Homo sapiens: one gene and its partner. The protein of the gene in region 1 interacts with the protein of each later gene in a pairwise test. Each region holds a gene or a part of one and is shown on either strand. Other genes may lie near its edges.

Region 1 (16,733 bases):
AAGCCCTGCAAAACAAAGCTTTTTCCTAAGTCAGTGGTAAAACCTGACCTGAGTGAATATAATTCTACTTTGACTCTATTTTCCCCACTTTATATGAATGTTCATAATACACTGCAGGAATATTATCTGCTTGATTATGGTGGTGTTACATATGTATATATATACATATGTGTATATATTACATGATTATGTATGATGCATGTGTGTATGTATAATAAATACTAAAAATTATAAATTCCCAAATAAAACTATGCTCAAGGGATTTGGATAAGGGATCGGGACCTGTGTTTATTTTGTGTTTGGTGCAGTACATGTAATATCTCATTTAAGCCTCCAGCAACCCCTTTGAGGAAACTGAGGCTCAGAATTGAGACTGGAACCCTGACCTGACCCTAAATTTCATGTTGGTTTCACTGTATTCCATGCCTGCCACCCTCCTCACCTCCCCTTTCCACCCAACACAAAAAATCTCTTTTGTGACCTTAGGCTTCTAGGGGTGACTTCATTGGAGAATATCAGGTGAGATTTTAAGGACTGAGGGTAGAGAGCAATGGAGCCAAATGTTCCCACTGCTGACACCAGTACTGTCCCTTCCTCTCCAGGCAGGGAACACTGCCACATCTACGTAACAGAAGCCTTAACCATCAGAACCCGCAGACGAGGCCGAGCTGCTGCCGTTTCTTCCTGCACAACGCTTACGTGCCTGGGCCCTTCCCATTGGATTGAGAACGCTATCCAGTGCCCCTGTCCTCGCCAGGCTCTCCCTGGATCCAGACGGGAAGACCCAACCTCCAGGAGCACTCGCTCATCTCCCCAGACAGCACTTCAGGCTGGGAAAGGAGCCAGGCTGCCCAGAAACGTCCATGTGGGTGGTTTTGCTTTTTATGTAAAAATTTGCATTTCTACCTATTTTAGACACCTTCATCAGCTCCAAGAACATCAGTGTGAGGCTGGAATTGTCTCCCCAGGTTCTGAAAAACACCTGCATTTGTGAAAGCACCTCCTCACCCGACCCCGGGGCAGGTCTTTTTTTGGAAGGACATTTCCAAGGAAGATCAAACTGTTCATTTTCTGCTGTAGTCTCGGTGCAGGGTATTACCGCTGGGTTGAGGTTTTCTATTCTTTTTTTTTGGTGAGTTCCTTCTTCCCCTTGAGGAATCAGCAGTTCCAATTTTTAAACATACTCTCCCTGATTATGTGTATTTCTCTTTCTAGTGGGGCTGTGTGCATCGTTGGCCTATGTTATTGTATGTCATTTTTGTTTGCTTTAGAAGGCGATAAAGCAATAATTCAGCTAATTTTCTTTGAAACTTGATAGGTATATATGTGTTTACGTTAAAGGACAGGAGGAAAGATGTGCGAATAATTTGTTCTGAAGTATCCAGTCACCTCAGGTTATCTTATCCCTATCCAAGCTGTTTAGAAGTTATAATTGTCACTCTTGTATTTATTTCCATGGCTTCTTTTCATTTGAGCTCTGGTTTCGGTAGGGTGACCTTTGCCCCTTGGCCTTAAGGGTTCATAAACTGCAGCCCAAGTGGTGGTGCCTTTGCTTATGAATCATCAGACCTGCCCTAGTAATCTTTTTCTCCAGAGTCTTCTTTGAACATGACGTGGGCTGCTGGCATGGAGGAGTTGTTCCAAACTGGCCTCAGAACAGATGCATGAATGAAGGGTACTTTTTGCTTTTGCTCACCTCATTTTCCTTCATCTTTCTTGATGAATCCATTATTTGCAAATGCTGTCAAAACATGCTTTCCTTCTCCCTGGCTACCTCTCAGGAGTTCATTTGTCTCTCTGTCTCAGCTTCCTCCCTCATCTTCCTTTACCCCTCTTCTCTGTCTTAGTGGGTGGATGGGCATGGATAGAAATCCTCTGTTTCTTTAGGTTAGGATAAACACCTGGGCCCTGGTGAGGCAGTTGCTGTTCAGCACCAGGGACAGCAACTGCAGGGCTGTGAGGCCGGAGCCCACCTTGTGTCCTGTTCGATGAGCTTTGGTTACTGATGAGCAATTGCCAGATCATGTCACCCACCCAGCCTTTTACACCTGGGAGCCTCATGCATCTGGGTTTGGGAGTTTGGCCCTGCTGATGATAGTTTGTTTTCTCTTCATTCCCTGAATTAGTCATCAGTTCTCCGTGGCCATTTGGGGATTCATGCCTGCAACTGCTTCAGTCGAATTCTTTTTTAAAGATCCAGTTTATGTTTTATAATAATTTTGATCTTATGGCTTTCAACGTCAATAGGATCCCCTTTAAAAATACCCTGCTAGTGTTTTGTTTTGTTTTGTTTTTCTGAGACAAGGTCTTACTCTGTTGCTCAAGCTGGAGTGGAGTGGCACGATCATAGCTCACTAACACCTGGGCTCAAGTGATTCTCCCACCTCAGCCTCCCAAGTAGCTGGGACTACAGGTGTATGCTACCATGACCAGCTAATTTTTAAATATTTTTGTAGAGACAAGGGTCTTACCATGTTGCCCAGGCTGGTCTCGAACTTCTGGGCTCAAGCAATTGTCCCTCCTCAGCCTCCCAAAGTGCTCGGATTACAGACATGAGCCACTGCACCTGGCCTGAAACACATTCCTAGTCTTTTGATCCTGACTTCTTATCTGGGCTGCTGTCTCTCTTTCCTTCAGGTGGAAAGGACCCCTTGGTACCATCTCAAGCAGTAGGAAAGGACCTGCTCTTACATATATTGATGGTCCTCATGCAAAACTCTCAATTCTTAATTAGTCATGTCTCAGCTCAAGGATATCAGACAGGAATGAAACACACTTGAAAATGAGATTGACCTGGAGATTTTTTTTCCCTAATCTCTCATACCTTAATTGGAAAAATAATCAATTAATTCTATGTTAATTAGGATATACAAAGTTCACCCTCCTTGAAAGTGACTAGGGCAAGCCCTGAAGATCTTCCTCACCTCCTTTTATTTTTCTATAACCTTGTCTCCTCCAGCACCACAGGGAAGACAATCACAGTGGGTCAAGAGCGACCCTCTTTCACGTGGGCTCTGCCATGACCTCTGAGACCTGCTTATGATCAGTGCAATGAAGTTAGAAGTAACTGATGATTGGGAGCCTTTGCAGATAGCTGGGCAAATGGGTGATTTACTTATCCCCATTCTAAATGGAGTGAGCTCTCTTTGAGGCTAAGCAAGGAGGCGTTGTATGCTAGTTTCTAGACTTTGCCTGGAGACCCCTTTGGAAATCTGTCTTCTTTTTAAACTCACTTAATATGCCTTAATCATCTGTGTGTAATGGAGTCATCCGCTCCTCAATCTAACCCTCCTCCCCTGGGGCTTTGGCTGTCCTCAATGAGAGTTTCATGCAGAATGGAAAATCCTCTATATGTACAATCTCTCTCCCCCTCATTTCTCTTCCTCCTCACCTCCACCACCCCTTTGCACATCAGCATTTTAACAGCTGATCTTTTGAGAAGCCTGTATCTTTTTCCTCTTCAGTAGATACCCTTCTTCATGGTCCTTTGCCTAATCAAACAGAGGCTTTTGGCCTTTGAAAATCCATGACAAGGCCTCAGAAATCAGTGTTGTGGAGGATTACTCCATGCCACCGGAGAAACTCTGGTGAAAGAGAAACCTCGTGGTCTTTAGGATGTTGGGATTTTGAGTGAACCTGACCTGATAGCCTCAGGATTCAGGGAAAGGACAATCAGATGGCGGTGTTTTCCAGGGGGACGCGCCAAATCATGTGGTTTCAGACAATTGTGTTTGCCTTTGTGCCTCCCTGGAAGGGAGGCCAACTAAGGGTATCACCAAGAAGCCAAAAGAGAAATAGGCATGAGCCTGTGGTTTTAAACTTTACAGGCTGGGCAAAGGATTTAGAAAGACCCTTAGCATGATTTTCCTAAAAGAGACCTTAGCTGCTCCAACCTGGTGCTGATAGCTGCTTTGTTGATCTATGCTTTAAAATTTTTCTTTATAATGCCCCCAGATGGCTCCTGGAACTAGTCGTAATTGCAAACTGTAAAAATCCCTCCTCCCCAGTGTAGATATTTAAACCAGAGTAAGTGATGGGGAGACATTCTGTGGTCTCTGAATGTGCCTTCCCCCTCACCGTGTGTTAAAACACAAAAGCCGAAGTTCCATGGCATCATGATTCCGAGGGGCTGGAGGGATAGGACCCACTCCACATCTAAAGGGGATCTGCTTTGGGCTCGGTCCCATTAGCGAGTGGGGGACTCTTGCTGTGTGCTAAGAGGCTGCTAGGACTCACCCAGTTGGAATTCTGGGTGGGCTCAGGAAGTTTAGAGCCACGTAAAAAGCTGGTAGGCATGAGTGTGCCAGGTCTTTGCCAGCCTGCGTCTCCTTTTGCACCCCCCAATCCAGAGTTTGCTTTCTTTTGACTAAATTGGCTCCTGCAGGGGGAAGGGCAGAAAGCTAGGCCCTCTGCTCTGGAAAGTCGGCCTGAGGTTTCCGGCAAGTTAACCCTTAAAATGGACACCCCTCAGCCCGCCCTCCCCTTTGGCCTTCCCAGAATCTCCTTCAGTGGTTGCTCTCACACCTGTGCCATAACATCATCTTCCATGACTTGGACGGGCACTTCCTTGACAATTCCTATTGGCATCACACGGGCTACAAATTATGCTGTTTTCTAAAGAATTTGAACTTTTTTTTTTTTCTTTTCTTGAGACACGGTCTTGCTCTGTTGGCCAGGCTGGAATGCAGTGGCACAATCATAGCTCACTCCAGCCTCCAACTCCTGGGCTCAAGCAATCCTCTCATCTCCACCTCCAGAGTAGCCTAGATGACAGGCGCACATCACCACGCCCAGCTGATCTTTTAAATCTGTTTTGTAGAAACAGGATCTCACTATATTGCCCAAGCTGGTCTTAAACTTGGTCTCAAGTGATTCTACTGCCTCAGCCTCCCAAAGTGCTGGGATTACAGGCCTGAGCCACCATGCCCAGCTGAATTTGAGCTTTTTAATAATCTCATTCCACATAGCCTTATAGATCCTGTAAATAGGGGGGGTCACAAAAGTAATATATTGTGTTATGGAAGATAATTTTGTACTGTGCTGTTTCCTAAATCATACCAATATCCTAAAGTCATGCACTTCCCAGATGATCGTGATCCTCCAAATGCTTTGTAAGATGGGGCAGGGCGTGGAAATATATATATATACACACACACACAGAGACACACACACACACAAGTATAGTATATATTTTCCTAACCTTTCTTCTGGGTCCTTCCTCAGATCTTTGAGTCACGATAGAAAAGGAGCTCGAGTTCTTTGTGTAGGAAAGTTAAGCTTCCTGCCTGCGGTGTTCTTGCAATTGCCTTAGGAATTCACAAGCTCTAGGAGTTCTGAACGGAAGGCAGACGAGAGGCACTTTATCCAGTCCCAGAAAGAATCTCTAACCGTGTGACTGAGAAGTCATCTAGAAAAACTTATATTTTTAATGTAAAAACAAATGGGGCTTACCAGACCTCACAGAGTATTGGACGTCTACAAGTGCTTTTATATTTTGTAACTGTAAAGAAGTTTCATATGCACAGAAGAGCAGTTGGAAATCTGGTCGACTGCAATAAAACAAGATGACCTTTGCATGTACAAAGATGTTGCATTCAGACTATGAAAATAGCAAATAAAGCTTTGGTGCAAGTTGCATTGGAGAAGTCGGTGCGTCCATGTGTGAATGAATAGAGTCTCCCATGCATGCAGGCCCTGACTGGGGCTGGCTGAGTCAGTCTGTCCTGTGCTGAGCTGTGGGCCAGCCAGCGAGAGGGCAGAGCTGGGGTCCTGGGAGAGGGTGTCCATGCAGAATGGGAGGCCATGGAAACAAGGCAGGATTTCCATTCAGACTGACAAGGGGTTGAGTCCTCCTCCTGCCACCCTCTGGCTGTGGGATTTCTTTTAAACATTGGTTCTCCTTAGCTATACAATGGGAGTGGTGATCAGGACATTTTTGCAGGTAACAGTTTAAGGTGGTGGTTCTCAGCTGGGTGGATTGTGCCCTCCAGAGCATGTCTGGTAATGAAAGGAGGCATTATTGGTTATCACAAGAAGGAGAGAAGATGCTCCAGGAAGTGAGTAGAGGCCAGGGATGCTGCTCAGCATCCTGCAGTGCACAGGACAGCTCCCACCCCGACCCCACCACAAAGAATGACCCGACCCCAAATGGCAGTAGTGTCAAGGTTGAAAAGTCTAGATTGGGGAGATGTGGTACATCAAAGTGCTGAGCGTGCAGTAGGTCTGCAAGGTCCTCAAAGATGTGATGGGAGGGGGAGCCACGCCATCCCCACCTCTGCCTTCCTCCTTCTGTCCCAGCTGGTGGCAACTACATCCCAACTCAGGGGGTCCAAACCGACTGCTTTCTGTGACCTTCAGCAGGAAGTAGCCCCTTGGCTTGAACTGTCCAGAGTAGGCAGGATGCTGGGAATAAAAGTCAAAAATAACAGATACTGTGCGCAGTGCTTTGCTTGCATGACCTCCCAAAATGGCCCAAGTGGAGAGAAGGTTCTCCATTTATGGTGAGGAGACAGTAGCTCTGAGACCTTCAGGAACTCGTCCAAGGTCACACACATCTGCCTGACTCAGAGTCCAGCTGTCATCCACAGCATCTCACCACCATCTCCCTCTAGGGGGTACAGGGTAACTGTGTTTTTGTTTGTTTGTTTGTTTTTTGAGACGGAGTCTTGCTCTGTTGCCCAGGCTGGAGTGCAGTGGTGCGATCTCAGCTCACTGCAAGCTCTGCCTCCTGGGTTCACACCATTCTCCTGCCTCAGCCTCCCATGTAGCTGGGACTACAGGCACCCGCCACCACACCTGGCTAATTTTTTGTGTTTTTAGTAGAGACAGGGTTTCACCGTGTTAGCCAGGATGGTCTCGAGCTCCTGACTTCGTGATCCGCCTGCCTCGGCCTCCCAGAGTGTTGGGATTACAGGCGTGAGCCACCGCGCCCGGCCTGTAACTGGGTTTTATGCTGACTTGAGGATTTTAGCCAAAAACAAATACCAACAACAACAAAAGAAAACCTTGTTAACTCACTCCTTTGCTCCAATATAATTTTATTCATAAAATAATCACTTATTAGATATTGATTACAGGCAAAATTATACTTTGTTAGACACTTAAAAAATTCCTGGAAGCTGGGTGCAGTGGCACGTGCCTGTAGTTCCGGTTATTCAGGACACTGAGGAGAAAGGATTGCTTGAGCCCAGGAGTTTGAGTCCAGCCTGGGCAATGTAGCAACAACCTATCTCTAAAAAATAAAATAAAAATACCTGGATCTACCTTTTTTCTTTGGTCATAAATAAGTTGACTGTGATGGTCACTTTTATTTCTATTGAGGCTAAGATCCCAGGTCCTGGAGCAGGCCAGCCCCTTCTCTCTGCTGTGTGATTCTGAGTAAATGGGTTCACCTCTCTGAACTCAGTTTCTCCATGTATAAAGTGGAATCAGAATTCCTCCCCTAAGGATGGCTGGATGAGAATTCCATACAATGCTTGTGAAGCTGGCACAATGCCTTGCGTGTAGTAGGTGTTCAAGAAATGGTAGCTATTATTCGTGCGTGTCTTCTACATGAAGAAAGTCAGTCTGTGAGTTCTGTGACGGCATCCTATGGAAACGGTTGGGTGGATTTGCGCCCAAGTTGGAGAGTATGGTTAGCGTGATCTGACTTAAAACTTAGGCCACATGGCACATGGAAACTGGAGAGTGTCTGGGGTCCCTCACTTTAAGAACTAGAATTTTTCCAAAGGTTGCGTGTGACTCAATAGGAAATGGTGACCCCAAGAAACCAAAGAAAGGGAGTTGGTGGTTGTGGGGAGACACGGGAGAGCTGCACACCGTGCCCCTTGCCTGGCGCTGCTGGGCTTCCCACAAAGCCAGTGAGGTTCATCTGTCCCCAGGAAGTCATCAGAGACGGTGGCTGAGGAGACAGGCACTGGGGGCCTCCGTGGACCCGCTATTGGAGTGAAGTGGCCTGGATGGAATTGGGTGGACAGGGTGCTGCCTCAGCAGGCTGGGATGTGCTGGGCTGTCAGAAAGTGCTCATAAATAGCATGCCCCTTGCGAAGACAGGCGAGTCTGCAGACGGCCGTGGCTCCTCTGTTCTTCCCGAGGCTACAGCAACAGGTTCATTCTGGGATGGGTTGGGGGTGGGGAGGCAAAAGCCACCCTGGCAGGCCCGGACCTTTTGTAGTTTCTGTGGGACGCGCATGGCTGACCGCCTGCAAAGAAAAACAGCGCCTCCCTTAAGGGTCAGGTCCCAGTGAGAGGACCCTGACAGCCCAGCTGGGGGTGGAACGAGGGACCCTTGTCTGCAGTGGCCAGGGTCCAAGCCCCTGGACATGTGCTTAGGGCAGGGGACCTTCCAAAACAGCTCCTCTGAGGGAGGGGAGTGGGCACACATGGTACCTGCCAAGTCCCCCGAGAGTCCCCTGTGAGCTGGACCAAGCCCTGTTTCCTGCTGAGGCTAGGAGAGACAGAACCGACAGCCCGCAGGCTGTGCATGGTTAGGCCCACATCCAGAGTATGTGGGCTGTGCAGCTGTGCATGCTGGGGTGGCCGTGCTGGGAGCCGTGGGTGGGTAACAGTTGGATGTGGGGTGTAGATGTAGGTGCCTTGTTTACCACTGTGGATGTCTGAAATGGGCAGGGATGTGTGTGTGTGAGGAGAGAGAGAGAGAGAGAGAAAGAAGCTGTCCTGTGAGCCCATGGGTGAAATATAACTGATAGTGACCATAGAAACTTTTGCGAGTGTGTGCACCTATGTGTGTGTGCTGACAAACAGAACAGTCCTGTGTGTGTCCATGGGTGCAACAATGATGAGAATCCTTCCATGTGACTGCGGCAGGGGCCTGTATTGCGTGTCACTGTCCCTGTAGCAATGAAGAACTGTCGGTGTCTGGGTCTTGAAGTGGCTGGTACACAGTCGTGTTCAATAAATGCTTAAGGAATGAGTAACCGAACGCAGGGAAACTGACCTGGAGCAGGTGTCCAACGACCTGGTCTTACAAGCCTTTTCTCTAGAGGTCTGTCTGTCCACCTCCCGACATATGGGGTCTCCTGTCCCTCCTGGTCACCCAGCCCAGAGCCTGGCACTGTGTAGGTGCTCATGGAATATTTGTTGAATAAAGTAACCAGTGAACAAAAGAGTTCCTGGAGTACGGAGGTGGGAGAGACCCCTGTAGAGGAAACTCCCTGAAGCCCACCCTTTAGCCAGGTTCTGGGGGTGGGACATCTGCAGAGAGCTCTGAGAAACCTGGGTTTCGGGGAGCATCTGGATCAGGGGAAAAGGGCACGGGCTTTGGAGCCAGGCCCGACCCAGGCCACTTCCTCACTGTGTGCTTGAGGAAGTGGCCTCACTTTGCTGAGCCTCAGAGTTCCCCTCTGTACAATGGGGCTCCTGATCCCACTGTCTCAGTCCACGTGGCCCATGGCAGGTGCTCAATGGATGTTTGCTGAATGACTGAATGTCGATCATAAGTTACAGCCACGCCCCATGGGCAGCAAGGCTCTGTAGCTCATCCTGGACTCCAGTCACATCAACACCTGGCTTCTCCCGGGTGGATCCAGTGAACCATTTTCTTTTGGTTTGAAGCCAGAGGTGTTCCTGGGGAGATGGCGGAACAGCACGGAGCACCCGAACAGGCTGCAGCTGGCAAGAGCCATGGAGACCTTGGGGGCAGCTACAAGGTACTGGGCAGGGAGGGGGTCAGAGGGCCCAGGCTACTCCTGGGCCTCAGGGTCATCTTCCCAGCCAAGCAGCACCTCTGCAGGAAGGAAGAGCCATCCTTCCAACCACCCAGGCCAGGACAAAACGCTCCGGGTGGGTCCTCTCACTGCCACCCTCCCGTTAGAAACTTGCTTCATGACTTTGCTGCATCTTCCCTCGTCTGCAAAACAGAAATGGTCACCCACATCCTGCCTGCACCAATGGATCAGAGAGGCCCGGGGGTTTCTGGAAACGGCTCTGAGCTCTGACTCTCCTGTCTGACCTCAGCCTGGTGTCTTGCCCACTCTGGGGAAAAGGGCACAGGGTTTGGAGGCTCTCTGGGCCTCAACAGCCCCATGTTTGAAATGAGGATGGTGCCCAGATATTGTGCCCAGAGTTGGTGTAAAGGCTGAAAGACATGAGTGAAGCCAGCTAGCAGAGGGAGGCACACTAGAAATCTGAGAGAAGGTTTGAATGTGTTGGCTCTGCCCTTTCCAAACCATCTCCGGGGTCTTTTTGGGAAACTATTCCAGACAGAGTCTAAGGATGGGTCGAATCCCAGTGCCTCCTCTTAACTTGCTGTGCAGCCCGAGGCAAGTATCTTACCCTTTCTGAGCTTCTTTGATCCCTTCTGTAAAATGACTAGAACAGATGTTCCCTGGGGATCTTCTACAAAGTCAGTTTGTGTTTCCAGGTGGGTGAGAGAGGCAAAACCTTGGTCTGCCTTTGCAGCCCTTCTCTTCCTAGGCTTGGGGCAGGCAGAGGTCTTCCCCGAGACTGCAAACAGGTGTTTTCATTTTTTTAAGGGGGAAATTTCCTATTAAGGAAAATACAGATTTCTGACCTCTCTTGAAAAAATTGGAACTGGGACCTCATTCCCTCATCGCCAGAAGCAGCTTCATTTCCCCACCGACCTCTCGGGTTATTTCAGTCCGCTGGACTCCCCACCTGGCTCCTGCTGGACATCAGAGTTGCAATCACTAGTTTAATTGGTCTCATTGAAGTTCCTGAAGGCGTTTCCCTCCATGACCATTAGAGGGCAGTGCAGGCCCACCTCAGTGCCAGCTCCAGGCTGGAGAGATGCAGAAAGCAGAGGGTACCTCCCTCTAATGCCCAAAGGAGGGGCAGAGGCTGGAGCTGGGAGCCTAGCAGAGGTGGGATGTTTAGGACTCTGCTCTTCTAGGTGATCTTGTACGAACTAGAGAACTTCCAAGGCAAACGCTGCGAGCTCTCGGCCGAGTGCCCCAGCCTGACCGACAGCCTGCTGGAGAAGGTGGGCTCCATCCAAGTGGAGTCCGGGCCGTGAGTACCTAGACCCCCAGTCCCTCGCCACAGCCCTGAGCCTTCTGGGAGTGTGGAGGCCCCAGTCTGAGCTCTAGATCTGTTGTGGGGCTTTTGACAGCTCCCCTGCCTTCTCTGGCCTCGTTTTCCGCATCTGTAAAATGAGAGTTGAAGAATTCTCTAGAATCCTAGATGTCTGCAGAAAATCCCAGGATACCTGAGGTTGGAAGAACAGCAAGGTCAACCTAGCACCTAACTCAGTGACTGGAACATGGGATTTAATATTTATAATTTTAATAATAATTGTAACACCTAAAATTTAACATGCATTATGTCATTGAATCGTCATGACCCTGTGACAGAGGTATCATTCTTATTCCCACTTTATAGATGGGGAAACTGAGGCCAAAGTTGGTAAGTGTCCCATCCATGTCCACAAGGCAGGCAGGTCTCCCAGCTGGGCCCTGAATTCCCGCCTTTGGATTGCAAGTCCAGGCTCTGGCACTAACCATCTGGGTGATCTTCGGCAAGTTGCTTCACACACCAGGCCTCTGTTTTCTCATCTGTTGAATGGGGATAACAATGGTACGTACTTCAGAGAGAGTTTTTATGAAAATGAATGGAATGATGCAAATAAATACATATTAATAACAATACAATACAAAGAAGAGGAAAAGGAAGAGGAAGAAGTCACTGTCACCTATGGAATACTTACTGTGTACCGGGCATTGTGCTAAAGACTTTTCTGGGTACCTTGCACAGAGGCTAGATTCTCAATAACATACCCTAGGATGGTTTTCTGGCCCAGAGTCTCAGACAGTTCCCGGTATGTCCTAGCAGCTCCTTTAATTACAGGTCCAGGAATTAGCAGTAGGGTTGGAGGGAGGGTACAAGGTTCAAGGTCAGCAGCTCTTGGACACTTCTCTCACTAAACTTGAATCCTTCCTCAGCTGCAGCAAAGGTGACCCAGCCAAGCCTCTTCCTCCCTCAGGTGGCTGGCATTTGAGTCCAGGGCCTTCCGCGGGGAGCAGTTTGTTCTGGAGAAGGGGGATTATCCTCGCTGGGATGCCTGGTCCAACAGCCGTGATAGTGACAGCCTTCTGTCCCTCCGGCCTCTGAATATTGTGAGTGTGGTTCCTGCTCACTTCTGGGTGTTCCTGGAAGCAGGGTGCACTGAGAGCTGGTCAGGCAGCTCATTGCACAAGCTGGGCTGAGGGTTTGGCCCATATGGACCTGGCCTGGGAAGGGCCCTCATGTTTCTGATTTGAACAATTGTGTGGGACAAGAAGTGGGATATTGAAGGGACATTCGGTTGGGGATTGAGACACCAGGACTCACATCTTGAATTAAACCAGCATAGCACTGGGACTTTTCTTTGTAACCGTACTAAAACGATGAGCCACATGGCCCAGTCTCAAATCAGTATTGTTATCAAAGAAATGCAGTCCAGGAAATAACTTCAGAAAGTAGCCAAAATACTTTAAGTTCTCCACTTGTGTTTTTCTAGCACCTGAAAGGGACACAGTCCACAGTGACACTTTTTATTTATTTGTTTATTTATTTATTTTTCGAGACAGACTCCTGCTCTGTCACCCATGCTGGAGTGCAGTCTTTCTCTCTCTCTCTTTTTAAACATTTTTATTTATGTATTTTTATTTCATTTTGAGTTGCAGTCTCGCTCTGTCACCCAGGCTGGAGTGCAGTGGCATGATCTCTGCTCACTGCAACCTCTGCCTCCTGGGTTCAAGTGATTCTCCTGCCTCAGCCTCCTGAGTAGCTGGGACTGAAGGCACATGCCACCACGCTGGGCTAATTTTTGTATTTTTAGTAGAGGTGGCGTTTTGCCATGTTGGCAAAGCTGGTCTTGAACTTCTGGCCTCAAGTGATCTGCCTGCCTCGGCCTCCCAAAGTACTGGGATTACAGGCCTGAGCCACCACGCCCGGCCCACAGTGACACTTTAAACACCACCCTTCTCCCTCCCCTGCTTCACTCACACCCCGCAGCTGCTCCAGCCCTTTCTCTTTGTCACATAACTGAGTCCTCCTTAGAGGGCAGTGGAAGAGGGGAAACTGGGAAGATTAAACCGGCATCTGGTTAGGAAAGAGGGAAAGCTCATATGTTGATACTTTTGATCTCTGTCCACCCTCTCCTGGCCTCAGTTTCTCTATCATTTAAATGATGGGATTGAACAAGATCTGGAAATTCCTTTTCAGTTTTATAATCTACGGCTCTAGGTTCCTAAATCAACCAGCTTTGGAGGAATCTCCCCGTCCCTCCTACAGTGAATTTGGGGGTGGAGGCATCTCCTGAGGCCCTTCCCTCCTGCAGCAGGTTTGGGGGTGGGTGTTATTTTGTGGTGACCTGTTGATTCTTTCCGGCATCTGGAGCCTCCTTGACCTCTGTTCTGGATATGGGAGCAGCCGCTCACCCCACGATATTGCCCTCAGGATAGTCCACATCACAAGCTGCATCTGTTTGAGAACCCAGCTTTCAGTGGCCGCAAGATGGAGATAGTGGATGATGACGTGCCCAGCCTGTGGGCTCATGGCTTCCAGGACCGTGTGGCGAGTGTCCGTGCCATCAACGGGACGTAAGGGACCCAACCCTCACCCTTGCCCCATCTTCTGGTCAGCCATGCCTCTGGCTCCAAACAGAATCAGTGCCCATAGTTTCTTATTATTTTATTTATTTATTTATTTATTTTTGAGACGGAGTCTTGCTCTGTCGCCCAGGCTGGAGTGCAGTGGCGCGATCTCAGCTCACTGCAAGCTCCGCCTCCCGGGTTCATGCCATTCTCCTGCCTCAGCCTCCCGAGTAGCTGGGACTACAGGCGCCCACGACCACGCCCGGCTAAGTTTTTGTATTTTTAGTAGAGACGGGGTTTCACCGTGTTAGCCAGGATGGTCTCAATCTCCTGACCTCATGATCTGCCCGCCTCGGCCTCCCAAAGTGCTGGGATTACAGGTGTGAGCCACGGCGCCCGGCCATCGGTGCCTATAGTTTCTTGCATGATTCATGTTCCCTGCACTCCTGTACTGTTGAGATTTCTAGGCAGCCTTGACTTAAAACAAGTAAAATCTGTTCTCTCCACCTGTTCCCATCTGAGTCCTTCCTGCTTTTTTAAACATCCCCACACCCTTGAACTGATTCTTGAAATGTTCTTCCCCCTCACAACTCTTGTTCTTCTTAACAAGGGGCCCAGGATGTATGCAGTTATTGAGATGTGACACAAGTTGTACAGAGGAGAGCAGGCTTATCACCTCCCTCTTTCTAGGCTTAATATCACCGTTGATGCAGTCTTAGGATCACCTGCTTTTTGTAGGTGGTTACATCTCACTTGTGGGCTTGTAATCTGGGGTTGGGCCTTGAGAGGTGCCACCTATCCCTGATAATAATTTATTCAACAATTTTTTACTGAACATCTACTATATGCTGGTGTGCTGATACAGAGAACAACAAGAATGGCACATCCTCTGGCCCTCAAAAAATTTGCGTAGTCTGGGGCTCACGCCTGTAATCCCAGCACTTTGGGAGGCCGAAGTGGGCGGATCACCTGAGGTCAGGAGTTCATGACCAGCCTGACCACCACGGAGAAACCCCGTCTCTACTAAAAATACAAAATTAGCCGGGCATGGTGGCGCATGCCTGTAATCCCAGCTACTCAAGAGGCTGAGGCAGGAGAATCACTTGAACCTGGGAGGTGGAGGTTGTAGTGAGCCGAGATCACGCCACTGCACTCCAGCCTGAGCAACAAGAGCGAAACTCCATCTAAAAAAAGAAAAATTACATAGTTTGATGGAGAGACAGACAAAGTAACAGGTATTCACAACGTATTGTGATCAGGATTGGGACTGGGATGCACAAGGGGCTCTGGGAGTCCCAGTGAGGTACTCGATTCAGCCTGCAGGAGTCTGGAGACATCTAAATTGAGCTGTAATGGATGCAAGTGGAAAAAAGGGGGAAGGAGAGGGATGAGGTGAGCAAGAGTGTTCCAGGCAGAAGGAATCATGCATACAAAGGCCCCCCAACACAGCAGGTTCCGGGAAAGTAGAATAAGAGAGGCCACGGTGTTGAGTGTGAATGGGATGTTGAGAGATAAGGCTAGAGATGCTTTGTTAAGGGTCCTGTGAGCAGGGTAAAGAGTTTGGATTCATCCCAAGGGCTCTGGGGAGCTAAAGAGGAATGTAGGCAGGCAGAGTGCATGGTCAGATGCTGGCTGGAGGCAGGGTGACTGGAAGCAGACCGTCCACATCTCAACCTTGGTCTCCCGGCAGGTGGGTTGGCTATGAGTTCCCCGGCTACCGTGGGCGCCAGTACGTGTTTGAGCGGGGCGAGTACCGCCACTGGAATGAGTGGGACGCCAGCCAGCCGCAGCTGCAGTCTGTGCGCCGCATCCGTGACCAGAAGTGGCACAAGCGGGGCCGCTTCCCCAGCAGCTGAAAGGCACCCAGACTTCAAGGACCCAGACCCACCCTGGGGGGCTGCAAGGGCAAGAAGAGGAGGCTCCAGGGTTGGGGCGAGGGCCGACCTGTCCACCCTTCCCTGGAATCTGCTCAATAAAGCCTGGGGTTGGTCCCCCACCCGCCACGTTCCTCGGCATCACTTCCTGAGGGAGCCAGGCCTGGGGCGGGACCTGTGGGAGAGGCGTGCTGAAGGAGGCTGGGGCTTGAGTGTTCTGAGACTCCCAGGAAGGGGCTGGGAAATTTGCCCATATCCTAGGCTCTAATCCTTTCAGGCAGAGCCATGTGCCCCTACTGCCCTGATCTTGTGTTTGTCTGCTGCTGCATGTTTCCATCTGAATGTCTGTCAGTCTGCCCATCCACTCACCCATCCATCCATCATCCTTCCACCCACCCACCCACCCATTCATCCACCCATTCACCCACTCATGTGCCCATCCATTCGTCTACTCACCCATCCATCCATCCATCCACCCACCCATTCATCCACCCATTCACCCACCCATGTGCCCATCCATTCATCTACTCACCCATCCATCCATCCACCCACCCACCCATCTACCCATTCATTCATCCATCCAACTACCTACCACCCATTCATCCATCCATGCATCCATCCATCCATCCATTCATCCACCCACTTACCCATCCATCCATTCATTCTTCCTTCCATCTTCCTATATTTGTTCTTTCCATTAATTCATCCATTTTTCCTTCCACTCACGCATCTTTCTATCTATCCTTTTATCCACTTATCCATCAATTTTTCTTTCAATCTACTTGTCCATCAATGTGTCCATCTGATCTTCCTTCCTTCCTTCCTTTCTTCCCTCCTTCCTTCCATTCATCTATCCATTATTTCCCCTTCCACCTCTCTGTGGGTCAGTCTCTGTTGTCATTAATGTATTCAGCAAATGCCATGCCCTGTTCAGTGTATTCAGCAAATGCCATGCCCTGTTCAAGGCCTAAGGACAGGGCACAATGTCCTGCCCTCCAGGTTCTCACCTTCTGTGGGAGAGACAGAAAGTAAATAAACAGGTCGATGAGGGCTATAATGTTGGGAGGCGGTAAATACCAAGAACAATAAAGCTGGATAAAAATATGGAAGTGATGGGGGTGGTGGCCAGGAAACTCTGTGCAAAGGAGCCGAGTCCTCAGTGAACCACCAGAACATTCCAGGCAGAGAAATAACAGGTGCAAAGGCCCTAGGCAGGAGTATGCTGGCCTAATGGGAAACAGCCAGGGGCCCAGCAGGTCTGGAATGGAGTAAAAGACTGGGGATAGGGTTCAGAGGGAACAGGGTC
Region 2 (15,847 bases), on another chromosome or scaffold:
TGTCGTAGAGAGCCCTGGGTTGCTTCTACTTACATCTGGTTTTCACATTTACTTAACTGCCCAATTATTAGATACTCTGTATGTATTAGTCCATTTTCACACTGCTATAAAGACATACCCAAGACTGGGTAAGTTATAGAGAGAAGACATTTAATTGACTCACAGTTTTGCATGGCTGGGGAGGCCTCAGGAAAGTTACAATCATGGCGAAAGGGGAAGAGTCACATCTTCCTTGGCCTCAGGCAAGAGAGCAAATGATCAAAACAGGACCTTGCCAAACACTTATAAAACCATTAGATCTCGTGAGAACTCACCCACTATCGCAAGAACAGCATGGGGGAACCAACCCCATAATCCAGTCACCTCCCGTCAAGTCTCTCCCTCAACATCTGGGGATTACAATTCAAGAGGAGATTTGGGTGAGGACATAAAGCCTAACCATATCACCATAAGAAGCTTCTGGGCCGGGCGCGGTGGCTCACGCCTGTAATTCCAGCACTTTGGGAGGCCGAGGTGGGTGGATCACGAGGTCAGGAGATCAAGACCATCTTGGCTAACACGGTGAAACCCCGTCTCTATTTAAAAATACAAAAAAAATTAGTTGGGTATGGTGGTGGGCGCCTGTAGTCCCAGCTACTGGGGAGGCTGAGGCAGGAGAATGGCGTGAACCCGGGAGGTGGAGCTTGCAGTGAGCCAAAATCGCACCACTGCACTCCAGCCTGGGCGACAGAACGAGACTCCGTCTCAAAAAAACAACAACAACAACAAAAAAAAAAACAGCTTCTGGCCCCCAATTCATTGCAGTAAGAGCCTGTGAAATAAATAAAAGGGCTCTCTTCTGTACCCAAGTCGTTCCTTCCATTCTGTCTCCACCATCCATCCATGCTTACATCTGCAGCCTGCCCGCTCCTTTTTTCTCTAATGGCTAGAAGCTTACTTGTTAAAGGATGACAGCGTCTCCTCTGTGTCTATCTAGGCCCAACTGTTAATGCTTTGACTCTGGGCTGCTTGTGTCCTCATCAGATGACTTTGTTATTTATTTATCACATTGTTTGTTGTTTTCTTTGTTATTTATAGGGACAGTACCCTTTTATCTCCCCCAGATTCTAACAAAGTAATAAAACACATAAATTCAAACTATTAAATAGCTTTACCAGGCCCATTGTCTTTTACCAATTAATACTGCAAGTTTTATGCTTTGGGATCTTTCTGACTTTCTACAAAAACAATTTCCTTCATAGTATATATCAAGAATAAAATCAGTGTTATTAAGATAAAAATTCAGAGACTAGCCAAAAGGGAACCCTTGTTGGTCATTCTGTGTCAGCAACAATGCATTTCTTAATTCCTCGGGAAGGAGAGGATATTCACAATGTGTTGTCAGTCTCCATTTTTTCTTCCATTCATAATGTGAATCTCTGGTCTTGCATTTCAATTTGATTGTTATTTTCTACTGAATTTGTGCTCCTTCTAGTTCATTACTGGTTTGGATTTTTTATGATACAGCAGGGAAGCTTCTTTTTAAGGCTAGAGTGGTTTTGCTTTTATTGTGTGATACTCTTGAGTTCCTGGAATTAGAGAGAGGGTCATATAATTTTGGCAGAATAAAGCAAATGTTTTAAATGTCTCTGTAGCCAATATATTTTCTTATTTATGGAATGGGACTACATTTCTAGGGCATGTATACATACCTTAGTGAGAAGCTGGCAGGTAGTGGTAGTATGAATGTCATTTCAGAGTATACTTGAACTATGAGATAAATGTGATATGTTTTTTTTTTCCCCAGATTGTCAACATTACCTAGATATATGGGTAGAAAATAGTATTTTCTATTAAAACAAACATGAATGCACAATAGATTAGAAAAGGTAAGAGGACTTTTAAAATAAACCAATAACCATTAACAATTTTATTGCTTTTAAATTGTAGCATCCCTTAGATTCCAAAGTTACATATTTGCCTTATTTGTCTTTAGTGGGTGATCTGGAGGAAAAGTTTAGGAAGCATTTAACTAGAGTCCTTGTATAGTGTGATGAGCAAGGCTGTTGCATCAGGTTTTTAATTGAAGCCACAGAGTTGATTTTTATTTTGTTTTGCTTCCATCAACACTGTCTAGGGGCATAATTCAAATGAACATTGAAAAAATGCTTAATTATTTCTTTTTTATTCTCATACTCATTGTTGCCAAAATCAGACAGCATTTACAAAACCTTCATATATAGAGTACTGACTGAGGTATGCTATTTTTGTAATATGTATTAAATAGCATCATTTGTGAATTATCTGTAAAGAAACGGTTGCAGTAAGAAAAATCATAATTTAATTTCTAATTAGACTAGAAATTCTTCACAGAGGAGGTGAAGAAAGCGATGCTGACCTTGAGGGGGAGAATATTCTAAGTATGTCATAGTGAATGTCTTAGTCTTTTTTGTGTTGCTATAACAGAATACCACAGACTAGGTAATTAATAAGAAAAGAAATGTATTTGTTACAGTTCTGGAGACCGGGAAGTCCAATATTGAGGGGCCCACATCTAGTGAGGTCCTTCTTCTTGCATTATCCTGTGGTGGAAGGCTGAGGGGCAAGACAGGATGAGACAGCAAGAAGGAGCAGAACTCACTTTTATAGCAAAGCCACTTCTGTCATAATTAACCCACTTCGGTGGCAATGAAATTAACCTATTCATGATGACAGAGCCCTCATGACCTAATAACCTCTTATTAGGCCCCACTGCCCAACACTGTTGCATTGAAAATTAAGCTATCAACACACAAACTTTGGAGGACAAATGTGAACCAATTACCAGTGAGAGACAGCATGTTGAGATGGTGGAGAAAGCGCAGGTGTTCAGCAAAAAAAAAAAAAAGTGCAAGAATATCACCCCTTTAGTGCAGAAAAAAGAAAATTAACATTTATTGCCTATCTGTCATACTAGGTGTCTCCTATATGTTGTTTCATTTAAATCCTGAAAATACCTTGGGAAACTATATTCTCCCCATGCAGAAAAAAATGAGGCTCCAAAAGGCATGGAAGAACTCATGTCTGTCTGTTTCAAAAGCCCATGGTAGTGGGGGAGTTTGCACACTGTGCAGAGGAAGTTATTTGTGATTATTGAAGTGACATGTACAGTTTTATAACATGCTCTTCTAAGCCCCATTGGCTTTCCTCTGTGACCCTGTATAGCACTGGCTGTATGGACTCTTGATTTGATGTTTATTGTTGTCTGTCTTTGACCATCATTCAAAACAGCATGTGGACTCTAAAAGTCATACTTCCACACTTTGCCTTTCCTGTGGAGCCTGGAATTTTTTAATAGATGATGGTTAATATTAATCGCATGATTGACTTTTTACATCTAAGATTCTAGGATTTAAAAAAAGTGTTAATAAGCAAAGTCTAATTTGAATTTTCTTTTTTTATATTTTTTTATTATAACTTAAGCTTCACTTCTCAGCCCACAAGTAGTGTGAATTAAAGCTGCCTCAGCATTTGTTCTCTTTCAGATATGTCTAAAACTTTAAAAAAAAAAAAAAAACAGGATAAAACCAAGGCCAGGAGCATTATCTTAATATTATACTTTCCAGCTATCTTATGCTGATAAATGCCAGTATCCCCAATTACAGAAACTATGAATTGTCATCTAGAGTCAATGGTAAGATGAGACAAAATCATCAAAACTTTTAAGTGCTTTTTCCCATATCAGCTTAGTGTATCAGAACTTTGTCATTTCATCATGCCAAAATGCCACCTCCTTAGGGAGGCCTTTGCTGACCTCCCTAGTTACCAATCCTATTTGGCGATTACCATGACATGGTGGCAGCACTTAGCATGGATTAACTCATTGATTTAATACTCAAAAGGATCATATAAGCTAAGTGCCACTATACCATCCAGAATTTTTAGATAGGGAAACAAACCCAGAGATGAAGTAATTCCCTTAAGATGGGTTACAAGCTAGGAAGTAGCAGAGGCAACATATATACCTGGTGTTCTAGCTCCAGAGATCCTACTTCTAACCTCTAACTACTCCCTTAAAATCTCCCCTAGCCCCTCCCCTAGAGCCTCCCCAGCTCCTCCCCCTTCCCTAATCCCTTCCCTAGCTGCTCCCCTAACTCCTCCCCTAGTTCCTCCCCTAATTCTTCCTGCAGCTCCTCCCCTAGTTCATGACTGCTTCTTTCCCTAGCCCCTCCATTAGCTCCTCTTTCCCTAGCCCCTACCTTAGTTCCTTCCCTAGTCCCTCGAACTCCTCCCCAAGCCTCACCCCTAGATTCTCCCCTAACTCCTCCCCTAGATGTTCTCCTAACTCCTCCCCTAGCTCCACTCCTAGTCTCTCCCTAGCTCCACTCCTAGTCTCTCCCTAACTCCTCCTCTAGCTCCTCCCCATCCCCTCCTGTGTCGCTCCCCTTGTCCCTCACCTAGACTCCCCCTAGCTCTTCCCCACTCTCCCTAACTCCTCCCCTAGCTTCTCCCCGAGCCTCATCTCCTTAGCTCCTCTCCCAGTCTCTCCCTAACTCATCCCCTAGTCCCTCCCCTAGTCTCTCCCTAACCCCTCCCCTAACTCCTCCCTAGCACTTCCCCTGGTCCTGCCCCTAGTCTCTCCCTAGCTCCTCCCATAACTCCTCCCCTAGCCCCTCCCCTGGTCTATCCCATGACTCCTTCCCTAGTCTCTCCCTAGCCCCTCCCCTAACTCCTTCCCTAGCCCCTCCCCTGGTTCCGCCCCTAACTCCTCTCCTAGCTTCTTTGGTAATCACTACCTTAACCCATCCTTTAACTCTCTTAACTCCTCCCCTCCTCTGCCCTGCTTCATTTTTCCTTCACTATATCATCAGGGTCTTGCAGGAAAGAAGATGCACTCAGCTGAGATTAAAAGAATTTGATGAGGAGGCTGCTTCAAGAGCTGGGGGAACCGATGAGAAAATGCAGACATGCGCAACAGCAGGAAGCATCACCACCCTCAGGCCTGCGGGCCAGGCGAGGAGGAGTGCGGGGCAGGACCCTGGGAGAGAGGGGAAGGAGGGACTAGTAGAGCCTCCAGGCGCCGTGGGGCAGAAAGTTCTGGAAGCTCAGAGGACTGGCGGTGGCAGAGCCAGGGGCGTGGGGCAGGAGGTGCGAGGGAAAAGCCCCTCTTCTCTTTGATCCCCTCTTGCTGAGCCTGGTGCACTTTCCTTGACGTGGACAGCAACAGAATCCAGGACATAGTGAATCTAAAACAACTTTTTTTTTAATGCAAGATTTTTCTCTCAGTATTTTGACATTTAAATGGTTCTACCGCTAAGTGGTTAAGTGGTTCCGTTCTAATTAGCCTTTTACCACCCAGTTCATCCGAGTTTCCTCCCTGCATCCCAAGCTTCCCACAGTGAGAGAGTATTTTCCACGTCGCCAAACACACCTGGCAATAGAACAGGCTGAAAGCGAGTGACATTGCCAAGGACAGAGCCACCTGCGGAGCCTGACACAGAGATGGTCGGTGCTCGGCGTTAACAGATTGTCTTCTCTGTGTTCCTCGCCCAGGCGATCAGATGACACACAAATCAGACTCAGCACAGTCCCTCCTTTGGGTAAAATAGAAACTCTGAAAGAGCATGACTTACTACATCTATTTTTCTTCTCCCTCTAAGCTCATCCATTAGATACAAGTCATTCTCAAGTATGAAGAATAATTGCTGGCTTAAAAAGGATGAGGGGGAAAAAACAAATAAAGATGAGGAAACGACTGGAAAGTTCATCAGAAGCTTTAGTTAGCATGCATGCGTTTCTCTGTACATTGTTAGCATTCTGAAAAGTTTTCGGTAATCACTTCTGTTTTCGGTTTGCGATAGACTATTTCTCATGCAGGGGTGCAGCTGAACAACCAAAAGCATAGACAGAATTTTCTTTAAATGTATTTTGTATGGAATTTAACTTTTGGCCATTTTGGTAGCCATCGAGCTTAATTGTTTGGGTTAACCATATCATGAAGTGAGTTCAGTGACGGTGACTCACACACCGGCTAGGATAAGTCAGAATCTCTATCATTGTAAAAGCTTTCTTTCTGATAATTCATGGTTACTGGTTAGGGTAAAGCACAGCTTGCCTGTTCCCAGAGATTTTAAGAAAGTGTGTAATTTGCTTTTATATGCTGAAATTGAGCATAAAGGAAAAGAAAGCAGCTTACAGGCTCTCCATTAAAAACAGCTTTTTCTGGGGAAAAGCTTTTCTGCTTTTATTTCAAAAGTTGAAGAACAGCAGAAGTTTCAGATTCCCTAGAAAATCTACCTAGCTCTCTGGCATCCAGAATTTTTGGCAAAGTACATTTGGAGGAAATATTGAGCTCTGAATACATTTTAATTCATCAAGGATCAAGGCAACAAGATTGCTCAATTTTTACCAACTTATCTTGAGCTCAATATTGAGGATGTGAAAGCTGCTGCCTTGTTTATTGTTCTTAAAAATATAGATAGATAGATAATAGATAGATGATAGATAGTGTATCTTTTGTGCTTCTGAATCTGTTTCTCAGTAGAGCTCTCCTTTCTTCCTCTCTAGGTCATGGGTTTGGTTCGTCAAAGATGTCTCGTGCACAGACATTTCCCAGCTACGCCCCAGAACAGAGTGAAGAGGCCCAGCAGCCGTTGTCGCGGTCCAGCAGCTATGGATTCAGCTACAGCTCCAGCCTCATCCAATGACACACAGAGAGCCGCTGTTGACTAGAGAGACAGTCTGTCCTGGACCCGTCTGTGGGGTCATTACCCTCTGCCTCCTGGAAGACCAATTGCAGTACAAATTGAAATGGGTCGGCTCTAGCCCCAGTCCCATTGGAAGGTTAAAAACTGGAGTTCTGCTTCCTTGATTCAGTGGCTAAGTCCTTTATTTATTGAATTTCTTTGGGGGAATCTATGTTTTACATAAATAGAATCCAAATCGTATGAACAGTTATTTAAATAAACAAAATTCTTTGGGTCTGACAGTAACAGAAACCTCAGCACTGGGAAAAGTTGCCCACACTGGGGTATGCCTGGGTGATGGGCACCTCTCACTGACCTCACAGCGCAGTCCGCCCATCTGAGCACAGGGTCTGTCCTTAGACATAATGGTGACCCTCCACAAGCTCTGTGGCTTTTAAAGTTCTGACAGGGATAAATACAGTAAGCTCTGCAAATGACATCGTAGCTGCATATAAATAAACCCAGTGACAATTAAAGGAACATGAAATTCAGAACACACTATTAAGCAGGGCCCTGTAGCTCTACTCGTGTGTGTGTGTGCGTGTGTGTGTGTGTGTGTAGACAAATGGATATTGCTATATCCATCTATATATAACAAGTATATATCAAACATGTGCTGAGGGTGACAGGATATGCTCACTTAAATTGTTGAAAACCATAATTTGGTGCATTAAAGTTAAGATTGTTATGTTGAATAGCTATTTTTAAAATAGTGCTGTAAAAAAAAAAAAAAAAAAGGCTTCTTATTAGCAAAAGTATATGTAATCCAGTCTGTTCCTAACAAGTGTAAGCAAAAATGTGAGAAGGGGAACATTCAGAAGCAAAAGAACCAGTCTAGCTGTCCTACACATCATGTCATACCCTGTCTTTCTGGTGAGCGTTTCCTTGTTGCTGACAATGTTGCTCCCTGTGGCCATCCATCTGAGCTACGTGAGGAGGATTCCATGTGAACGCCGATCAGCTTCCATTTAACCTTGAGAGAAAAGAGAGGTTCTAAATGAAGAACTCTTTAAGAAAGAAAGAATACACCCATAAAGAACTCAGCTATTTTGCAGTAAAGAGAAGAACAAAATGGGTACAGGATTGTGGATATCATAGATGCTGTTCTCACACAACCACTGGGGGCTTGTAATTTACTGTGTAACCAGAACTTGCAGGGCTTTATTTTTTCTTTTACTGGACACAGGTTGTCTGAGATTATAAGAAATAAAATAGATCAATAATTTTCATCATCCCTGACACTGATTACAAACCTACAGTGTTTAAAGGGAGGTAGTGAATTCCACGGAAACTGAGTTTGGCTAATTCAGGTCAACAAAGATATATTTGCCCTTAATTCTGGAGTTAAGTAAAAATAAAAATTATCCTGCCTGAATCATCTGATGCTTTGTGCCTAAGATGGTTATCTCTCAAATACTCTAGGGTGGGTTTAAAGAACAGTGAGCTCAGGTCACGCAAGATGAAAACCCAGGTTTTTTTTTTCTTAATAGGAAAATTTTTTAAACTATCCAAATTAGTCTGTTGAAAGGGTACCTTTTTTGCTGATCTCTGATGAGTTGTCTTTTCATCCCTATCTGTAGCTTGAGTGCAGATTGACAATTCATTTCAGTGAATTACTACCGAATAAAAGTGGTTCCGGATCCCTCCTAGATAAATGTGCACTTACAGCAACTACCTAGGCTCTCCAAATCACTCCACTCGGTATGAAAACCCCATCAAGATACTAATCGTAAGAGTTAATGTGGCTGCAAAAAATAATTATCCTAAGCTTTCAGGGATAAAAAGAAAATTACCCAGGTTCTCTGCACTGTGAATTTTGCTGACACAGCGGAGGAGCAGATGACTGGTTCCTACAACTGTACAGCCTTCCTTGAAATCATAGCTTTTGGGGTTAAACACTTGTGAATTTCTTTTGCACATGGCATTTGCTTTTGAAATGCCTTTAGTCAAATACACCAGAGCAACTCCCAGCTGAGACCATTTGAGCACAGTTCCTAGTGGGGCCACATTCAGAGCAAGCCTCTCGCCGGCTCACTCAGTTGAGCTGTTGCTTAGACACCACAAGTTTCTACAAGGGACTTATGGGGAACGGCCCTCAGGGGTCCTGGTTCACATCTCAGCTTTATTCATGTGCTGGAAGCACAAACAGCGAGTCCAGGGAGGGATTCTGCTAATCAGATGAGTCTGCTCTTGTGTCTCTTTCTTAGGAGACAAATACCTGTATGTAATTGCTTCAAGAACTCCATTTGGTTCTGATCATTACCAATGAATATAACTGAAGGAGCACCAAAGATCAGGCATAACCTCGGGCCAGTTCATTCTGAAAATGATGTCGTAAAAAGAGTATGTGTGAGAGAAATCTCCTTCCCAAGTTTTTAACCAGATCTCGTCACAATGAGGAGAATGCTATAATCTATCTCATGGTACATTTTTGGAGCTTAATTCTAGCATACTCCTCCAAGTACACTCACAATTGTAGCTGAGTCAAGACTGCTAAATGAACAGATAGGAGAACTTATATTAGACTAATATCCTTGACACGAAGCAGGGTTCATTGTAATAAAAACGGCAAACAGATAAATCTTCTACCAAAACCAAAGATGGAAAGTCACTGCACCAGTCTCCTGGAACTTCATAAAATCAATTTCACTGGAGCAACCAGAAGGGTCATGGAGATGTATACCACTCGCTTGGGCTCGTAGGTTTTTGACTGGGGATGCCTCTACACTTTGTAAGTCATTTCTCCCTTCAAAAATTGTATTATATCTTTAATATATGTGTATTTTTCAATGCGAGGGAGGAATTACTATGAACCAAAGATATCTTTTGGCTCCTTCTGAAAGTGACTCAGTTTGAATTCCATTCAGATTTGTACAGATAAATAGATGGTCACCATTTCTGCATCAGGTTGGAAGAGACCAATGATAAAGGAACCCAACGTAAGGAATAGCAGTTCTGAAAATAGACAAAGCCTAGAGGAGGTATCTATTTCACTGAGAGATTACACGAGGGGACTTATTTTTTATGTTCCCAATTTTTTCTTCTGATAATATTAATCAATGTACACATGATTGATGCATGATATTACACTTAAAATGCAGGAGAGTACAAAACAACCTTGATCCAATAGTTTCCTATTCTGGGGGGTGGGGGCAGAGGCGGAAAAGAAAACACATCTTTCACTTACTTATTGAACAAACAATAAGCACTCAGAACTAATTTATTTATGCAGGTTGCAAATATGTATGAAGCAATAGGTTCTGGCCACTGCCACAATTTGAAATCAATAAAATAAGAAATATATATTTATATATGAGGGAAGATGCTGTTTGATAGAGCATGTGAAATCAATGGAAACATATTTATTAAAAGTAAACCTCACCTTTTTCACCAAATAGTAACTAGAGAACTAGTCCTAGTATCTTGCGTAATTCTTCTCTGTCTTCATTGGGAAATTATGTTTGAAAATCTTTCATCACCTATAAAATGGTGAGCCTCTTGTACTTTCTATTCAGTGTAGAAAGAGTGGACTGATAAATAACTTTACATTGTTGGTAGTAGTTTCTACAGATCCAGTTTATTGCATGTCGTATCTTTATTGTAGATATTAAAAACACATGATAAAAATTGATGTGTGCCCCTCCTTGTTTGGCCAGTATCACAGAAAACTTTGTAAAAAAGCATGGGGACCCTACTCCCTAGATTATTTGAGCCATTTACTAAAATTGGCCATTAGTGATACAGTGAAAACAAGCTAAGGAAATGATATTCTCCTAAAAAGTTATATTCCAGTTTTGATTATTATAACACAGCACAATAAATGGGCAGTATACGTCTAATGGAACTGAGATTTAAGGCTTTAACAATTCGTGTTTTAAAATATTATATTGAAGACTGCACAAAGAGAAAATTATACATGTTTCTCCAATCCTGTGATCATGTCTGTAAATACCTTGCAATTTCAAATTACTTCATCCGTCATTAACTATATGATCTCCCAAACACAGCCTTCTCAAAATCGATAAAAATTTGCCACTGAATATGCATTAATAGCTATAACAATGGGTGACATGCCACACAAATTTAGCTTATGCAATTTATGGGGTGTGTGTTTGCAGACTATGAAATGTATGAAGTGCAGTCTCCCATGGAGAGAATAGAGAGGCAGGATGGCAACTAGTCATGAACGCAACAATTTAGGTTAAATGATAAAGAATACAATGAAATGTCCAGAGTAACACTTGGTCTCTACCTTTCTAACATTCTAACCCAAGGCCAGTGTCATGGGCTTGGCTTTCTTCCCTGTCGCCTCATACTGAGTATGCAATTTACAGAGGACATCTGTTGCTTTATGTCTTAAGGCCACTAGAGGAAGTCACTACATTCCCAACAAAGATGTGTCTTTCGGCTTAGTGAAAAACATTTAACAAGAAACAATGTGTAACCAAGTCCCCACAGTAAAATGTGTCTTCAGAAACATGAGAATCACTTTTATATAGCCAACCTCATTTGAATTTTATCATGAACATAAATTATCGGTGAGACTGGTGTGCGGGGCTGGATCTGTGAGACAAGCTCACACTCTCATGTGTGCATTCTCTATTAACATATTTGGAAGATTGCCCACATTTTCTCTGCAGACCTGCCACAAATCCTTACCTTCTTACTGAAGAATGTGACTATTGTAGCATTCGTGCAATTATGCCAGCAGAGGAGGCACTAGACAGTTTATAGACTCTTATGGAAGTTGGGCACATTTCCCAGGCAGGTGGAATGCTAGCTAGATCTAGAAGCACCCTTAAAGGTCATGTAGAATCAAGGTCCCACTTTATGTTTCCCTTGGGAGAAAACTGAAACCCATGGATGCTGTAATTTGTTTAACGGCAAAGAAAGAGCCAAGAATTGTTTCTCGTAGTTCCAGGGTCCTGATCTAGGAATGTTTCCTTGGCTCCATGGCATCTCCCAGTTTGACATAGTGGGAGCTGAGAAATGCCATATGGCCTCAAAATAAATAAACCCTTGTACATTTAAGTGTTTTCCCAGATTTTCAGATGCCTCTACTCTTGCTGAACTCATCACCAGCTGTATCAGTAGAGAGGTGTTATGGGGCAATTCATTAGATTTCTGGTAGGTCATGAATGGTTGGTATAAGCTTTATTTACTCATATATTGTCATCCAGTTCTTTGAAATTCAATCTTATCCTAAAGTGGTAGTCAAAGTAAAACACATTAAGTAGGTGTTTGTGTTTAGCAGTCCTACTAATTCATCACAATCACATAGTAATTGTGATTATAATTTTTGGAATCTTTATCACTTTCTAGCACTTTACGGTGTCATTATTTATGGCATTTTTAACAACTTTGTTGCATAATTGATAACATCAGGGCTACATTTTTTTCATGTGAGCCTCAAGAAGCTTCCATTATCAACAAGAATTGGGGAAATGACTTTTTTACATTATAATACCTTATATATTAGGTTTTTCCTGATAATCTTCAGTAGACAATGATTTAAATTAACTGAAGTTTAAATAAGAAATATGTTAAAATTACTAAATAATATGAAAACCACATTATACTTGTAATTTTCAGACACTTTTCTCCTACCTTAAGATTTTAACATCTTGTAAATATTAATATTTGAAGGGGAGAGGAAAAATACATTTGTAGTAGAAATATTCCCTCTAACAATTCTGTTTAACTAGTAAGTTTTTTTTAAGTTATCTTCCATGCCTGCTTCCCTAGTCTGAACTCCACATTCCAGTTGTCAGAAGAATGAATGGATTTAAATTTTCTAATCATTATTTTGGGCCCATGTTAGCAGTTGAAACAATTAAGTTCCTCACTCTTTCCTGCTTTTAGGATGATTTTAGACTGTGAGCATAAAATCAACCCTTTCTGTCAGCACAGAATTGAACATCGAATGGAGCAAGGTCTACACTCTCAGCCTGTAGCTGTGCTAATGTTAGGATTGAATTGTTCTATTAATTCCCTCAAGAGACCCACAGCCTCAAAAGAGTTGCTTATTATCAGATGTCCGAAATTCAGAAACCCAAAGTCAGGCAAAGAAGGAAACTGAGATAATGATTTAATTTTTTTAAGTCACTGCAGGATTTCTCTCAAAGAAAACATCTGAAAATGGTTGAGAAAGTAGTTCCAGATCATTAACTATTTTACAGAGGGACTGAAAGCCAGGGAAAATAAAGAACAGAATGATAGTAGTATCTTGATATTAAATTTGCATCAGAAATGAGCAAAATATGTCAATATGAAATAATTTGAAATCAAATTCAGATTCACATGTATAGTGCATAGTTCAAGAAATAATGCTTACTCTTGTAAAAAAAAAAAATATATATATATGTATCAGCAGGTAGAGTGTGGGAGCTCCAACTTTGTTGTGAAAGCTGATAACAGAGTATGATTCTTTCCAGTTACAAAATACTGTATTACTTTAGTTATAGCAAGCAGTACATAAATGACATCAACAACTCAGGCTGCTCCCTGACATAAAAGCCAGTTCCATCTTTACTGCAGATGACAGGAGACTTTCCAAGACCTGCAGAGGCCCCCTCCACCCCAACCTTAGTGCATGCTCACACACACACACACACACACACACACACACACACACACACACATTTTTGGCTTTTGACCCACTCTGTGTGTTCCACTGAAGTTATCTTTTCCTTAATAGATTCACACAGAATTACCCCATCCTGCAAAATCCTTATCCCTATGAATCTCTAAAATATATTAAATAATGTGTTATATATTTGCTTTTTGTAAATCTTTATTTAATTAATTTATATATACTTTGTGAAGTCTTATACTGTACATCATAAAGCGATGTCATCTGTAGTTGGTTCAATATAATGTTTATGATCATTTTGATAAGAAATAACTTTGGACATTAGGCCCTTGTTAAGAAATAAAACACCCATTATAAATTTGCTTCTGTTGGAAAATACATGATTTGGCATACTTCATTTTTAGTAACAATCTATTCTAGATAAATGATAATTTGGGGACATCTGTACTTAAAAACTAGCTGAACTACGTTTTGGGATGAGATGCAAAGCAACAGCTGTCCCTGGAACTGAAATGTGAATTTCTAGCAGAACAGAAAATATTATAATAATGAGGCAATAATAAAATTAGGAAATTAAATTATTTTTAAATCTGTCTGTGTGATTTTTCCCCTTGGTAAAAATACATGAAATACATAATTGAAAAATTACCTTCTTCTGAAGTCGTAGTTTTTAATCTTAACCATCAATAAATAAACCTATTGTTAACAATGTCTTATTCATAATTCTAAAAAATTTACAAATGATATTGCTATGAGGTTGTGCACTATTAAAGTTTGCTCCATCACTTAAAGGTAAAGCAGTTCAAAAATACTACTTTACATCACAACTTTGCATGGCTGAGATTTTGAACAACTAAATTGATGGTTTTACCCACAAGTTATTTCATAAAGCTAACACTGTAATATTACTTGGTTTTCTTATACTTTTGTTATCATGTGATGAAATGTAACTATGTAATTAAACAAAATTCTGACAATCATATTCTGCTAATGTTTAAAATGTTACTTATTCCTTCACTTATTAGCTTGCTATTTTGAAAATAAAGTGAAAGAAGGCCCTTTATTAAATGAAAGGTTACCGATAATTTATTATGTATTTCCAACGTTTTCCTAACTCCATCTTTTAATATAATTGAATTTTTATTAGGTTGACTCTGGTCTGAAGGAATTATAGAATTTAATATGGAAAATGACACTAGAGATTAACACTTTCGGATATCCAGGCCGGGCGCGGTGGCTCACACCTGTAATCCCAACACTTTGGGAGGCTGAGGCGGGTGGATCACTTGAGGCCAGGAGTTCAAGACCAGCCTGGCTAACATGGTGAAACCCCGTCTCTACTAAAAATACAAAAATTAGCTGGGCGTGGTGGCAGGCACCTGTAATCCCAGCTACTCAGGAGGCTGAGGCACGAGAATCGCTTGAACCTGGGAGGCGGAGGTTGCAGTGAGCTGAGATCGTGCCACTGTACTCCAGCCTGGGTGACAGAGTGGGACTCGCCCTCAAAGAAAAAAAAAGATATTCAGAGAGCTTAACTGGCTTGCATAATGTTGCACAGCTAGACAATGGCTTTTCCTACAGAACTCTGCTAATAGACAAAAAAAAAAAAAAAAAATTGAAAATAAACATCATTTGGTAGATAAAGATTTAACTTCAAAAGTGAAATGCATGCAGCTGTGACTATCATGCTGTTATCAATGGCTTCTTTTATTTTTCAGCCCATGATTAAGTAGCCTTTGCCACTCAGATTTAGACCTGTCTAGAAATACACTTACAGAATCTGTTTTTCAAACTTAACCTTTAAATATTAGCTGGGCATTTCTTATGGGCTTACTAGATTAATTTGTTATGAGTATTTTTCCTTTTAGAGAATAATGCTTTTAAAGAGAGTGTGAAGCTCCAATAATATCAGAGAAATCAAACTAGGTGAGAGAAAAGGAATCAAGCAGTCAGTACTGTTAAAAATGCCCTTCAATGGGTAAGTCTGGGCCAAATTCATGAATTGAAGAAAACAATGAAAAATGTATGAGACCTTTCCATTTTATGCAGCCAATAGAAGTTTGAAAAATGTTCAGGGGTGGCAATGATGATGAAATCACCCATTCTTTGTCAATATTGAATGAAATACAGCTTATTCTGAATATGAATTTTTAGTGATACATTTTCGTAACAAATTGGTTGTATGAACTTGATGAATTTTCTTTCCCTTTTTGTCACTATTAAAATCATGGAGACTATATTTACTTGGGAAAATGTATTTAGAAATAATGTAAAGGTTTATATAAGCTTAGAGCTAACATCAAAGAAGGTATTTAATAAATATACGTCACGAGGCACAGCTCAATAGCAATTATGCTGCTATTTTCGTAATGTACAAAGAACATCAACTCTTTCTACTTCCAGTTTAGTCAAGAAATATATTTTTAAAAGATTTATCTAATATTAGCATCCATATGGTGAATTATTAAAATAAATATTTGAGTAAGAGCTGCATAGAATATCAAAACATTCATGGAAGTATGAATTACACTAATATGTAGGTATCTCTAGG

The links.
Region 2: the proteins of CRYBB3 (region 1) and DOK6 interact in binary tests that used the Homo sapiens proteins (3 or more experiments, as listed by UniProt).

What each region holds. Positions count from the first base shown.
Region 1 is NC_000022.11:25,191,804-25,208,536, forward strand, and holds CRYBB3 (beta-crystallin B3), read left to right. Parts: upstream 1-8,054; 5' UTR 8,055-8,106; exon of another isoform or gene 8,107-9,573; 5' UTR 9,574-9,593; coding exon 9,594-9,668; intron 9,669-10,870; coding exon 10,871-10,989; intron 10,990-11,959; coding exon 11,960-12,092; intron 12,093-13,416; coding exon 13,417-13,559; intron 13,560-15,243; coding exon 15,244-15,409; 3' UTR 15,410-15,556; downstream 15,557-16,733. UniProt on the Homo sapiens protein: Crystallins are the dominant structural components of the vertebrate eye lens.
Region 2 is NC_000018.10:69,834,719-69,850,565, forward strand, and holds the end of DOK6 (docking protein 6), read left to right. Parts: intron 1-6,525; coding exon 6,526-6,665; 3' UTR 6,666-14,369; downstream 14,370-15,847. UniProt on the Homo sapiens protein: DOK proteins are enzymatically inert adaptor or scaffolding proteins. They provide a docking platform for the assembly of multimolecular signaling complexes. DOK6 promotes Ret-mediated neurite growth. May have a role in brain development and/or maintenance.